Regions from separate parts of the Homo sapiens genome. Here regions 1, 2 and 4 are each reported to be linked to region 3. Evidence: microRNA targets listed by miRTarBase, many of them from high-throughput screens and not tested one by one. Region 3 holds a microRNA gene; each other region holds the end of a gene's coding sequence.
The links. The annotated mature microRNA hsa-miR-4696 reads UGCAAGACGGAUACUGUCAUCU and lies in region 3 at 2,275-2,296, shown strand. An mRNA with a match to its seed (bases 2 to 7 or 8) in the 3' UTR can be bound and repressed. Matches are read on the target gene's strand: a 7mer-m8 pairs with bases 2 to 8, a 7mer-A1 pairs with bases 2 to 7 and ends in A, and an 8mer does both.

Region 1: miRTarBase lists NPM1 as a target of hsa-miR-4696. The part of its 3' UTR that is shown has no 7-base or 8-base seed match.
Region 2: the mRNA of FERRY3 is a reported target of hsa-miR-4696. Seed matches in the 3' UTR shown: 7mer-A1 at 1,809-1,815.
Region 4: the mRNA of TMEM65 is a reported target of hsa-miR-4696. The part of its 3' UTR that is shown has no 7-base or 8-base seed match.

The regions. Positions count from the first base shown.
Region 1 is chr5:171,410,289-171,413,471 of GRCh38, reverse strand. NPM1 (nucleophosmin 1) reads right to left here. Exons shown (of 11, transcript NM_002520.7): 11 at 2,572-2,945. The coding sequence ends at 2,907. Among named protein-coding and RNA genes, the nearest start is that of FGF18, 7.8 kb to the left of the region's middle.
Region 2 is chr12:4,487,170-4,490,339 of GRCh38, forward strand. FERRY3 (FERRY endosomal RAB5 effector complex subunit 3) reads right to left here. Exons shown (of 14, transcript NM_020374.4): 14 at 566-2,730. The coding sequence ends at 2,638. Among named protein-coding and RNA genes, the nearest start is that of FGF6, 43 kb to the left of the region's middle.
Region 3 is chr11:74,719,420-74,722,602 of GRCh38, reverse strand. MIR4696 (microRNA 4696) reads left to right here and starts at 2,266; the gene lies at 2,266-2,335. The region is part of intron 1 of CHRDL2 (chordin like 2); the gene reads left to right.
Region 4 is chr8:124,311,127-124,314,309 of GRCh38, forward strand. It overlaps TMEM65 (transmembrane protein 65), which reads right to left. Exons shown (of 7, transcript NM_194291.3): 7 at 1-2,935. The coding sequence ends at 2,834. Among named protein-coding and RNA genes, the nearest start is that of TMEM65, 60 kb to the right of the region's middle.

The DNA.
Region 1 (3,183 bases), not on the chromosome of region 3:
ATAAACCTATTATTCTGTATTAGCATATTTTTAAGCTCATCTGCTTTCCCTGCATGGCCTTACTTTTTACTACTGTAACCTATTTTACCTGTTCTCTGGTTGAAACTGAGGGCAGCTCTGTAGTTACATTGACTGTTGACTTATGAAAAGCTTGTCAGCCAACCTGTGCATGGATGCCCTCCTCAGCACTTAGAATTGTTCATTCCCTTGTTTTTCCAAAGGGTCTGGTCTGATCTAATCAACTGGCTAACCTAGAACCCAGTATTAACAAGCAATGTTCCCACCCAGACAGTGGTCTACAAATACCATTATTTCTAAGGGAGCCAAGGTTCTTTGGGGGAAATGGCCCCTCCAGGTCTGAGGAAGAAAATGAGCAAGATGAAACACCCCGTCACACAAGAAATCGAAGAGTGATCAGATTATTGAGACCTGCTATGGTAGGAGCAAGCTTGAAGGGGATTCCCTTGGTCAAAAAGAAAATATCAGCACCAAAAAAACACAGTGGGTTGATATACATACAAATACATGAAAATCTGAATTAAGGATAAATTCACTGATTCCTTTTCACAGGCTGCTAGGTATCAATCCATCACTCTAAAAATTGGCCAAAAAAAAAATCACATTAATATCATTTCCAGCCAGATGTGATGGCTCACACCTGTAATCCTAGCACTTTAGGAAGCTGAGGTGGGAGATCACTTGAGCCCAAGAGTCCAAGACCAGTCTGGGCAACATGGCAAAACCACCGTCTTGACAAAAAAGTTAGTTGGGCATGGTGGCACCAAAAAAAAAAAAAAAAAAGTACTTTCCAGTGAGGCAATCAACATACCATCCTCTCTTGAGTCTTCATTAAAATAAAGGTATAGAAAAACATGGACAGATATGGATAGAGGATAGAGGATACTGAATTAATGAAGGAAACCACAACCCACAGTAAACAATTAGAACACATATATGACACCCAGAAACTGGTTATGAGACAAGATAGTACTGTACCCAAACTTTTCTCCACTCTCCAAAGTGGAGAACTATCCTAGAAGTGAGAAGGGTTAACATCTACAGATCCGATTCAAAATACAACTATCAGCCTAGTTAACAAATGCCAACCTGCTAAATGAAACAGGCTACTAGAAAGTTAAAGGCAAAAACACATAGGATGAAAACCTGTCTGGGCACACTGGCTCACGCCTAATGCCAGCACTTTGGGAGGCTGAGGCGGGCAGATCACTTGAGGTCAAGAGTTCGAGACTGGCCAACATGGCGAAACCATCTATACTAAAATATATGTATATTTTAGTATATCTATATACTATATATTTATATATTTATTTATTTTTATATGTATATACAAACTTAGCCAGGTGTGGTGGCACACACTTGTAATCCCAACTATTTTGGAGGCTGAGACAGGAGACTGCAGTGAGCTCAGATCGCACCACTGCACTCCAGCCTAGGTGACAGACGAGAATAGGTCTCAAAACAAGAAAGAAAAAAAATTCACGATCACTTCAAAATGTTGGAATAAATAAAATGTTGAGTAATGTTTTTTAGATTTCAGATACACGCCCAAAGCAGCAAGCAGTTGGTATATTAAAATCAACACAAAAATTTAAAGACAAAATCAAAGTCTCTTTCCCAAGTTTAAACAAAAAGGAATGAGAAAAACCATCCAAGACAATCAAACCAGACTAAGAATGGATAGAAGTGGGAGATGAAAATCTCCCAAGGAAAACGGCACAGAACTGGAGAACATTCCCTCACCTACTCAAACTACTGGAGTATAAAGCACAACAAAACAATAGAAATCAAATCAGTATATCTGACTCAGATCATGTAATCAGCTTAAGGCAGAACATATAAAGGTGCTAATTAGTCTCTGAATATCCTCATTATCTACGTGATAAATTTTCTCCTATACATCTGTAAGAAGTACTAGGCAACTTGAGCAAATAGTCACTGAAATAATTGCTTTGATTCAGATAAGGAATCCAGGTTGAGGTCAGGTGCAGTTGCTCACACCTATAATCCTAGCACTTTAGGAAGCCGAGGTGGGCAGATCACTTGAGCTCAGGAGTTCGAGACCAGCCTGGCCAACAAGGTGAAACCCCATCTCTACTAAAAATACAAAAATTAGCCGGGCTGGTGGCTCACACCTGTAATCCCAGCTACTTGGGAGGCTGAGGCAGGAGACCTGCTTGAACCCAAGAAGCAGAAGCTGCAATAAGCTGAGATTGTGCCACTGCACTCCAGCCTAGGGGAAAAAACCATACAGGTTGAAAGGCTGCTTTTAAGCTGTTTTAACATGCCACATTTTCTTTGCAAGTGAGGCTAGAATAGGCAGATAGGAGGTCTAATGGAACATTTGGAAACATGTTGCATAGTTATAATAATTGTTAACTATCATCAGGAGGTGGGAACACAGCACTAAATCCTTATGATGAAAAAGTGGTTAGCTCCAGAGAGAATATTGAAGGGGAGGGCAGGGACATTCTCATAGAATTTTACAAGACTATTTGCCATTCCTAACTACATTAATTATTTCTTTGACAAAGTATAAAGCAGTTAAATAAGTCAATAGAAACCGTGCTACTTTATTAAAATACTGAGTTTTATTTCACATGTATATTTTTGTCTCCCCACCATTTCCATGTCTGACCACCGCTACTACTATGTCCTATCATAACATTCCATACATACTTAAAACCAAGCAAAGGGTGGAGTTCCATCTTTAAAAACTAAACAGGCATTTTGGACAACACATTCTTGGCAATAGAACCTGGACAACATTTATCAAACACGGTAGGGAAAGTTCTCACTCTGCATTATAAAAAGGACAGCCAGATATCAACTGTTACAGAAATGAAATAAGACGGAAAATTTTTTAACAAATTGTTTAAACTATTTTCTTAAAGAGACTTCCTCCACTGCCAGAGATCTTGAATAGCCTGGAAAAAAAAAAAAAGAAATGTGGTTAAGGAACCACAACACTTCATAGACATCAATAAATTAAATGTCTCTTTGCATAGTTCAACATCTATTTTTCATTCTACCACCAGAGAGTTAACTCTAGATAAAGATATGACTCCAAGAAAATTTATACTCAGATGTAATTTAATTCCAAACACTTTAATCAGTCATAAAAATGTGAACAATATACTAATAATTATTTAATAGTTTAGCATT
Region 2 (3,170 bases), not on the chromosome of region 3:
CATGCATTTCTTCCATTCTGGTCACACTGTCATGCTGAGAAACAGCTGGTGCCACACTTCTAGATCAATGGCTTTGCTTGTGTGGTGCTTCGAGAGCAGAAATGGGGGAAGGGGGGGAAAGAGCAGCACAGAATGGAGACCTCAGGTTCAGTGCCTCTGCCTGATTTCCAAAGCACACTCTTAAGGCCTTGAGGGCCATTTAGGAATATGTAACTGTTTATACAAATAGAAAACTTCTAACTCACAATCCTCACCAATGTCAATGTTTGTGCTAATCTCCCCATCCTCAAAGACTCTCGTGGTCAGCTCCTCTCAACTTACTGGCCATTTACCACTGCCTCCATTCTGCTTCTGCTCCTATCTGCGCCTTACTCAGTTGTCCCTTGGTATCTGCAGGAGACTGGTTCCAGACCCCCTGCCAATATCAATATCCCTGGATGCTCCAGTCTCATATAAAGTGGTGTAGTAATTGCATACAACCTACACACAGCCTCCCATATACTTAATCCGTCTATACATTACTTATACCAAATACAATGTAAATGCCATGTAAACAGATGTTATATTGTATTTTTAAAATTTTTATTGTATTTTTTTTCAGAATATTTTCCATCCACAGTTGGTTGAACAGAGTGCCATCTGTACCTAGAATGCTGTCTCAGCCCAAGGTACCTTCTTCACATCATTCATGAAGTGCTTTAAACCACTCCCCCTCAAGAAGCCCTTTAGAACACTCAGAAAAAGATCCTCATCTCATAATTCTTGGTCCAAATACAAAACTCCAGACTCCTCAATTACTGCATCACTAAAATTCCCACCATTTCAGTGCATATAATTAGCTTTTTAAGTTATATATTTATTATTAGCTTGGTGTTTGTGTGTTTCCATCAGTGGTAACACCATAAACATGATTCTTCCAATTTTACTACTTCTGTAACACAGTTGCATGTGGAAAACGGACATTCGATAAATTTATCCTGACTTCACATGCCAAATAGTACCTTTACACAGCCCTCAGTTAAAGCCACCAGTTTATAAGTAACTTAGTGGAATAGCCTAGAGGTGACAAAGGAAGAGTTGGGCAGCAGCATTCAACAAACATCCGTGAATGAAACTTTGCTCCTCCATTCCGATATCTGGGCTGCACTGATCTACCACTCTCCTGGTTTCTGCCTCTGTCTTCCCTGCTTTGCATTAGAATCAGTCTCAGTGATTAACAGTGGTGCCTGAAAGACAATTTCTCCAAGAGAACTGTATAGGCTCTAAGGGCAAAACACCTGCCTTCTTGGCAGAATCGCCAGGCTCCCTGACAAATAATTTGGAGAGTTTTAGTGTCTAATGGACATACTGCTGGAGTGGGTGTTCTTAGGGTTGTCTTTAGTGTTGTTACCTGGACAAACCTTTCCCTCGAGTAGAAAATTAAGACACATTCTGTTATAGGAAAGCACTCTGCTTGCCAACAGTTTCTATAATAGTTATTACACTGAGGCATATTAATGAAGGGCGTTTTGTTTCTTGTCATCAAGACATGCCATCTTATGACACCAAATGCCCTCCATTTCATTCTTGTGGCCAGTTACAATATCCACATAACTTGGAATTGATGAAACTATTGCTTTTCTAAACACCTGTGTGCTTTTGTAAATGCCTTTGTTTAATGGAGTTACTACTTATAGCATTTAAATATGTTATAGATGGGACAAATATATGATATGTAGCACCTGAGAAAGTAGTACCATAAGGAAAAACAATGGAAAAGGAGGGGAAACAGAGAAGCAGAAATGGGGATACATTTATCCGCAAAAAAATGCAAGAGGTAGAGGAATGGTTAAGCAAGCTGAGAACGCAGGGAGGACAGAAATGTAGAAATGATCTTCCTTGTGTGATTGTCACAATGTTGATGAGCACTAAAATACTGCCAGGTGCTGGTTTAGACTAACTTGACATCAAGCTTGCAAAAAAGAACACTATTTCCCAGTCCATGAAATGTTATTAATATGCAAGTGCAAGGGCACAGCGGGAGGATGAGAGAGAGGGAAAAAATCCAAAACGTCTTCTGACTCTAACTTGTACATCCTTAGGAGTAGATTAAAAAGAGATTCTGAAACAGGAGAATTTAAAAGAACAAGCACATTTGTCTTATACATTTGTGTTTCTATAAAAAGATTTTCACAGGAAATTTGTACTTGCAATGTATATTTCAGTGCTTTTACATTTTGTTTTGGCAAAGAAAGTAAAAGGAAAATTTTGTTTGTATGTTTAATTAAGGATTGCACCTGAGACGAGTCAAGCCTCTTGAAAAAGTCAAATGCCTCCATGTAAATATAATCAAGTTTCCTTTCCCAAGTGTCCATGTGTGATAAATAAAAAGTTTTAGATTACTAATATTCACAGGTAACACAGAGAAGAAAAAAAGAGAAATTCATAAAGAGACTTTAAGTGTTTAAGTTAGGGGTTGATCACCAGTTTGTGCAGTATATAAATTTTTGGAATGGTTTCACACACATGTATCTTGATTTGTGGATTGAGCTGCAAGTTCTCTTTCTGGGCATCTTTTGCTTGACAGATTCCCAGCATAGCACAAGTTCCTGGAGAGTTTAACAATCATCTTCTGCCAGCATGTCAATCTATAAGGGTTTAGTGCTTGGATGTCAGAGTGAGTGTTGATGATACTCGGAAGATCTGGGGAAGCATGTTACTAAGTTGATAAAACATTTCTTCAGAAATACTCTGTAAGACGAAAAAATAATAATTGCACTTGTTAAATCATCATTGATTTTAAAAATAATTTTAGAAGTATTTTAAAATATGGACCTAGTTCTACTAGGAATATGTGAGTGCAGTAGGTGAAAATTATCTTTCATGGCCGATGTAACTGCATGGCCATGGACAAGGGCTGGTTTTCCGGCTCCATCTTCTGAGAACTTATGTCATTTCTGTCAAATAATACGTTTGAGTAATAGAAAAACCTCTAGATAACACTAGTGTAATCAGTAATAAAAAACCACTAATTTTGCTAAGTTCTTCACAGAATACAGAATCATTATCTGCTAATGTCCTTATTTAAGAACCCTTTATAATCTATATAATACAAATGTGGAGAAAAACAAAGGAATGATGAGTCAAGTTTTGTTCAGGGGTTAAGTAACAAATCCCTTGAGTGGTAGATG
Region 3 (3,183 bases):
AAACAAACTATTAAGGAAGTCTGGGGTCAGTGCCCAGATCTGTTTTTTTTTAAACCTATTTAGTTGAGCATATAATATATGTCAGGCACTAGGCATATTACATATATTATCTGACCTAATTCTACAGTAACTCTGAGAGGTAAAGATTGTTATTAGTTCCATTTAATAGATGTGGAAACAGAGGCCCAGAATGGTTAGGTAACTTGTCTAAATTCAGGCTGCAAATAAAAGCCAAATCCACAATTTGAACCCCAGCCGATCTGACTCCAAAGGGTCCCTGAGAAAAGTCATGCTTGGTCTCTGAGATGGGGAGGGATGCATGGGCACAGGTGGGATGAGACTTGGTGGTGGGGTGGGAGAGGAATCAGGGCAGGTCCAAGGCCAGGGCAGAGGTGGGAACGCCACAGAGGACCAAAGGGAGTGTATGGGAAGGGAGTGAGGTATGAGACAAACTCTACCTCCTTCACACTCAGGTGACACACCTGTGTCACTCAGGACTGGTCCTACTGGCTCCCTGAACTTCATCCTAACCCACTTTGGAGCCTCTGAGAGCCTAAGATGTATGAGACCATCAACACATCCAAGAATCATAGAATCTTGGAATGATCGAATCTTAGAACCACAACATTGGACAATTCTAGAAGCTTTGTGTTCTAAGGAAAGACAGGTTCTTAGAAACATGGAATTCTCAAAATCCTGAACCTTAGAATCCTAGAATTTTGGAGTCTTCAAATGTTGAAATCATGGATTCATAAAGTATCTATGCAGAAAATCTTTGAAGATCATAGCTTACCCCCTCCCCTTATTTTGCAGATGGGAAACTGAGGCTCAGAGAAAGGAGGATGAGTCTCTGAATGTCACACAGTGAACTTGTGGCTTAAAGAACTAAAACTGTTTTCACCAGCCATGTTCAAGGGTTGGGGCTAGTGCCAGCACTGCAGGAACTGAGGCGGCCTGTCGCCGTCTGGCAGTTCTTCCTCCTGCTTGGTTCTGGCATGGCCTTGGGCACTCATCTCACTTGAGGAAGAGAGAGCTCCAGGCCATGCCACCCTTCCTTGTGCCTGTCACCTTCTAGGGTATGGTGGGGTGGGGATTGTGGCCACTGGAGGCCTCCTGCCAGGCCCCCCACATTCTCAGCCTCTGCCAGGTCTGTTGGTGGGGGGAAGGGGCCTCCTGCCTGGGCATTGGCTGAGACACTCTTTCTGTCTTCATGCTCTGAGCAGGCGGTGAGGTGAAGGGGGTGCCAACTGGCACAGAGACCTGGGCTACAGGGCTGCCCCAAGGAAGGGAGGACAGGGCTTCTTCAGCAACAGGCTGAGACCTAAGGTGGTGGCAGTGTTGCAATCACCCCCTCCCTGGTGGGAGGAGGGGACTGAGGAAGAAAGACATTATTCACTCCTTGGAGAGTTGGGCTGGCTCTGACCAGCACCCCAGCTGGGCCCGTGTCCCACCCTCTCTGCCAGTAGAGGCTGAGAGATAAACACAGCTCATTTGATACGGGCCAGCCGGGCCTTGCTGGCTTGCTGGGAATGTGAGAGGCGAACTTTAATCGCTCCTCCACTTTGCGGAGTTGGGAAGGGAATGGCGAGGGAACTAAGCCATGTGTTCCTACTCTCAGCGACCCTCGAAGCACAGACTGAAGGCATCGTGACAGCAGTCTCAAATCTTTGTTCTAGGAGGCCCAAGAGGGCAGAGCAGGAGCAATATGAGGAACCCGAGAGAGGCCAACTCCAGCTCCTTACAAAGAAAACCTTCTGATGGTTAGGAATGGCCCATGAGCTCCTGTTTCCTGGAGGCGTGTGTCAGGCAGGGGCTGCACGCCAGCCCAGCCCCCAGTGCTGAGAGGGAATTCCTGCACTGAATGTGAGCTCCCCGCTCACCCCACCCAACTCATTACTGCTTTCAATGCTCTGCGATTCTGTTTCAAAGTCTAAGAGAATGTGATTTAGGAAGTGTAAGAACCCATGTTTCTAAGACGCTTGACTCTGGAAAATGAGAAGGAGGCATGAGAGGCAGCTTCTCCATTTTAGACCAACAGGGGACTAAGAGAATAAGCTAGGGAGTCGGGGATGGTGGCTGGTGGGGCAGAGAGAGAAGAAGGCCTTTAGGCCCTGGAATTGTGTAAAAAGCCACAGGAGATGAGAGATGAGGTGAAGAGAAAGGAGCTCTGCTTTGGAGGCGGGAGTCCTGGGCTGAAATCCTAGCGGAGGACTTTAGGCAAGTGGCATAGTCTCTGTGAGCCTTCTCATAATTGTGGTAACAGTCCAAAGCCACTGCAAGACGGATACTGTCATCTATTCCAGAAGATGACAATGTCCATTTTGCAGTGGCTTTGTGATTGTTACCACAATTATCATAATAATAGCATTCAACTAAGGGTCAGAAACTGGACTGGGTAAACACTTTACAAGCGTTATCTAATTTAATGGTCAAAACAATAATGTTAATGAGATAATTAACTTCTATAAGGGGTTCGGCAAAGAGAAGATAGTCAATAATGTTGGTTCCCTTCTCCATATTTCAATCTCATTTAATTCAACAAACCTTTACTGGCACTTAGCTTGTGCTGAGCCTCCCAGTTCCTCCTGAAAAGAGCTCAGGCAATGGAGTGTTTTTCCCTGCTGGCGTGAAGATCGCTAGGTACCTGCGTAGAGGAGGGTTGGTGAGGATAGGGCGGGAGGCAGAGGGGCAGGGCACAAGGCTGCAGTGCTGGGCTGGGAGGTCTGACCCAGGGCTGGAGGTGAGTGGGTAGGAGGTGGGAGCAGGAGTGGATCAGTGGGTTATGGGAGGTGAGAAAGGCAGAGGTTTCAGGAATGCAGGATTGTAGGAGAGATAGCCAACCCATGGAACAAACGATTTTAGTAATTCTTAGAAGCATTCATCCAGATATTGACAACTGATGTGCGATTGCAAAAAAGTCCATTGGTGTGCCAATCACAAATCACAGTAGTAGCAACGACCATTTTTAAGGATACTTGAAAGTCAGTTTCCTAACAACCTTCTCATCACGGCTCACCAAAATATAAGGACATAGTACAGTGTGAAAGCAAGAAAGCTCCCAGAGCCATGGCCTCAGGCCCCATCCCTGCCAATCCTCCTCTACACAGGTGCCTGGTGATCTTCACACCAGGAGGACTTTGTTCAAAAGGTGGGCTACAGGACCCAGAGAATGTGTACACGTGT
Region 4 (3,183 bases), not on the chromosome of region 3:
GCTGTAAATACCCATCAGTGTGACTTATGTGAGTCTATCTAAAGCTTTTCTATGGGCTCACTCTTCACTCATACGCTGATGTTGTATCTCAGGTGCAGATTCCAGGGAGGTGGTAAATTGTTCCATTCACTATCTCAGTGACATTGCTGCCACCTTGTAACAAATCCGTATTCATTAATCCTGTTTGCTTTAGTAACAGAATATACCAAGGCCCTCTGAGATTAGTAAGAAATCAAATTTCAAAATCAAAACCACATTCCAAATTTCTTAAAAGATACTTTTTTTGTTCAATTCCTTTGTAAAAACATTGGTCACCATTTAACATACATGGCAACAAAATGCACCCAATTTACATGCATCAACAAGTTAATAAATCATAATACATGGACAACACAAATTTAAACAAACAGGACTAAAGTAGCTCATGTTGCATTTAACTATGGTTCTTGTGCTCCTAATAGAGAAGTAGCTAATATGAGAAACAAACAGTTCCAGTTTCAACCTAAATTAAAGTTATTTGTGGCAAGTAACATGAAACAATGATCATATGAAGTCATTATCTTAAAAAGAACCATTCTTCAGAAATCACTTTGTGGCAAAGCACCATACTAGGGTAGACTATGATCTTAAACATATACCTTCAGTTAAAGACAAATGGTCTCCATTTTTTGAAAATTACCTGAATGATTCAAATTTTTATTATGCCCATAAATTAAAATTATCTTTCAATGTGAAGGTTATATATTTTGACACCTTAAATAATTCTGGAGATGTTCAGTTAAACCAGTAATTCCCTGGGACCAGATTACTTTCAAGAGCAAGAAGAAAAAACAATAATCAAAAGCCCTTTCTAAAGTCACAGGCAAGGTTTCTGATACGGGATTTAATTAATAAGAAGTTAAGCACCACAGTAAAATACATTTTTAGAAAACAGAGTGGACTGCCATCAATACACAAGTTAGGGACAAAAGAAAGCACTTACACTTTACCCCACCCTTCCCCCCCCAAAAATTTAAGCACTCTAATCCTATCAATCAGAAATTTTACAAAGGATTTTTTGTGTGGTTATCTGTGTGTGGTTATTATATGGAAGATACAAACCGAAATTCTATTTAAGATCTCAAGTTCTAGAATCATGATTTGATTCAGTAAGAATGTCACATTATTTGTGCATGTTATATATTTATTTTTAGATTATATGCTATATTTTTATGCTTTCTCTCCTCAAAGTCTATGATTAAAGGATGGCACTTATGCATTCTGAAGCGCATGAGAGAATTTATGACAAACTGCCTTGTGAAAAAATATCTACTCTGAAGAGTTCAAAGTAATTATGTATAAATAAAACCTTAAAATAAACTGCTGTAAAACCTCTGCATCTATTTAGCAACACAAATAACTTCAAAAGCCAAAATACTATTTTAATTTTAAGTTTCTCTCCTCCATGATGTGTTTAATTACGCTGTTACAAGTAAGACTAATTTTTTAGCATGTGTAACAGACCACATGCTAAAAAAGTTTAAGGGTTCAGAAAACTAAAATTTATAATTCTTACATGGTTATACTTAAGCCAGAAGTACAAGACTAGAAATAAGTAACTTCAACCTAAAATATGCTTTAAATACCACAAAAGAAGAAAAAAGAAAAACAAAGGGAAAAAGGATTTCTCCTCATGTAATTTTTGAGTAGACTATGTAGCAAAAAAGCAAAATATTAAATATCTAGTTTTCACTTCAACAGAAATTATTCATAAATAAAATTCACTAAATAAGATATAATGAGATTAGGAGTATGAATATGGGGTATTCAGACTTATTCCATTCAGATGAGAAGATGACATCTTTGGAGGGAAAAAAAAAAACCTTACCAAATAATATAAATTGTATCTCATTAATCTTTCAAACATCACTTCAACTTCATCATTTATACCATAAACCTTCTTGACAGTTCCTATTTTCCACCTTTTTTTAAAAAAAGCTTTAGTCTCTTAATTTCCAAGCATCATGTTAAATCCCTTAGTTCAATCTAATTCCACAATCCCCATTTCAAAGACTCTAAAATAATCATTTGCTTCCCCTCAAAAGTCAGAATCCACCATGTAATTATTCAAAACTGGGAAACTAAAAGGTTAAAAAAAATCAACTAAAAATTGTACGCTTGTTAGTATACACGGTTTCATGTAGCAGGGAGACCACATAATTGCTCTTTGTGATTAACCCTCTGGCCCTTAAAATAGTAAAGTCAGAAAATTAAAATAAGTAATATATACTTAAAATACTTAAAACCTGTATCTATATCCATTTTCAATAGATGTGACAGTTAAGAAATGACTGAAATTATATTATTATAAATGTTTACTGCATAACAGTACAAAATTGATGTTCCCAAAAAGAGGGTAAAAAAATCTTTAACTGACATTAAACATCTTAAGTAATTTGGAAAAATCCCAAGGTTGAAATGTAACTATCAGGGAACAACGAAAAATGCTTTCATGCATGTACACATGTTAAGTAACAAATAAGCAAACCCCAAGTCAATACAGTACATCAATGACACTTAAATAACATTATGAATATAAAAAGAAAGGATAAAATGTTGACTGCTATTGATGAAAAAGCATTTCAACAATATACACAAAATGATACTAAACAGCTTTTTAAAAAAGATGTCCTAAGAAGATCAAGCCACAATAAGTTAGTGTTTTCCATAATACATGCTAAATTATTTGATCCCATATCTATACTGTTACTGTCTTAATTCCTAAATGTTGTGACAGCATATTTAATTACTGAGGTACATTAGTTTACATCTTTTTATAGGTATTCTAAGAGGATTAACTTTTCGTTTCCAGTTTTTCATCTTCTTCACCTCCTCCAAAGAAAATTAAAGGAAACATTCCTAGAATGCAGCCAATAGTCACCCCAACAGCTTTGCCCTAAGGAAACAAAAGAGAACATTTTTAAAGTTACTTTATCTCTGATAACAAGAAGGCAGAGAAAAAATCTCACCAGCTCTTCTCAATATATTTGGATTTGCTACCCTTCATATATATTCCTCTTCAATATTTATCCCTGTGTATACCTAATTATATGTAGATATAATCATTATGTAAACATAGCTTTGTTTTCTTCCTCAATCCGTACCCCTGCATAGCCACACATTTTCTCACAAACTCTTTTCCAA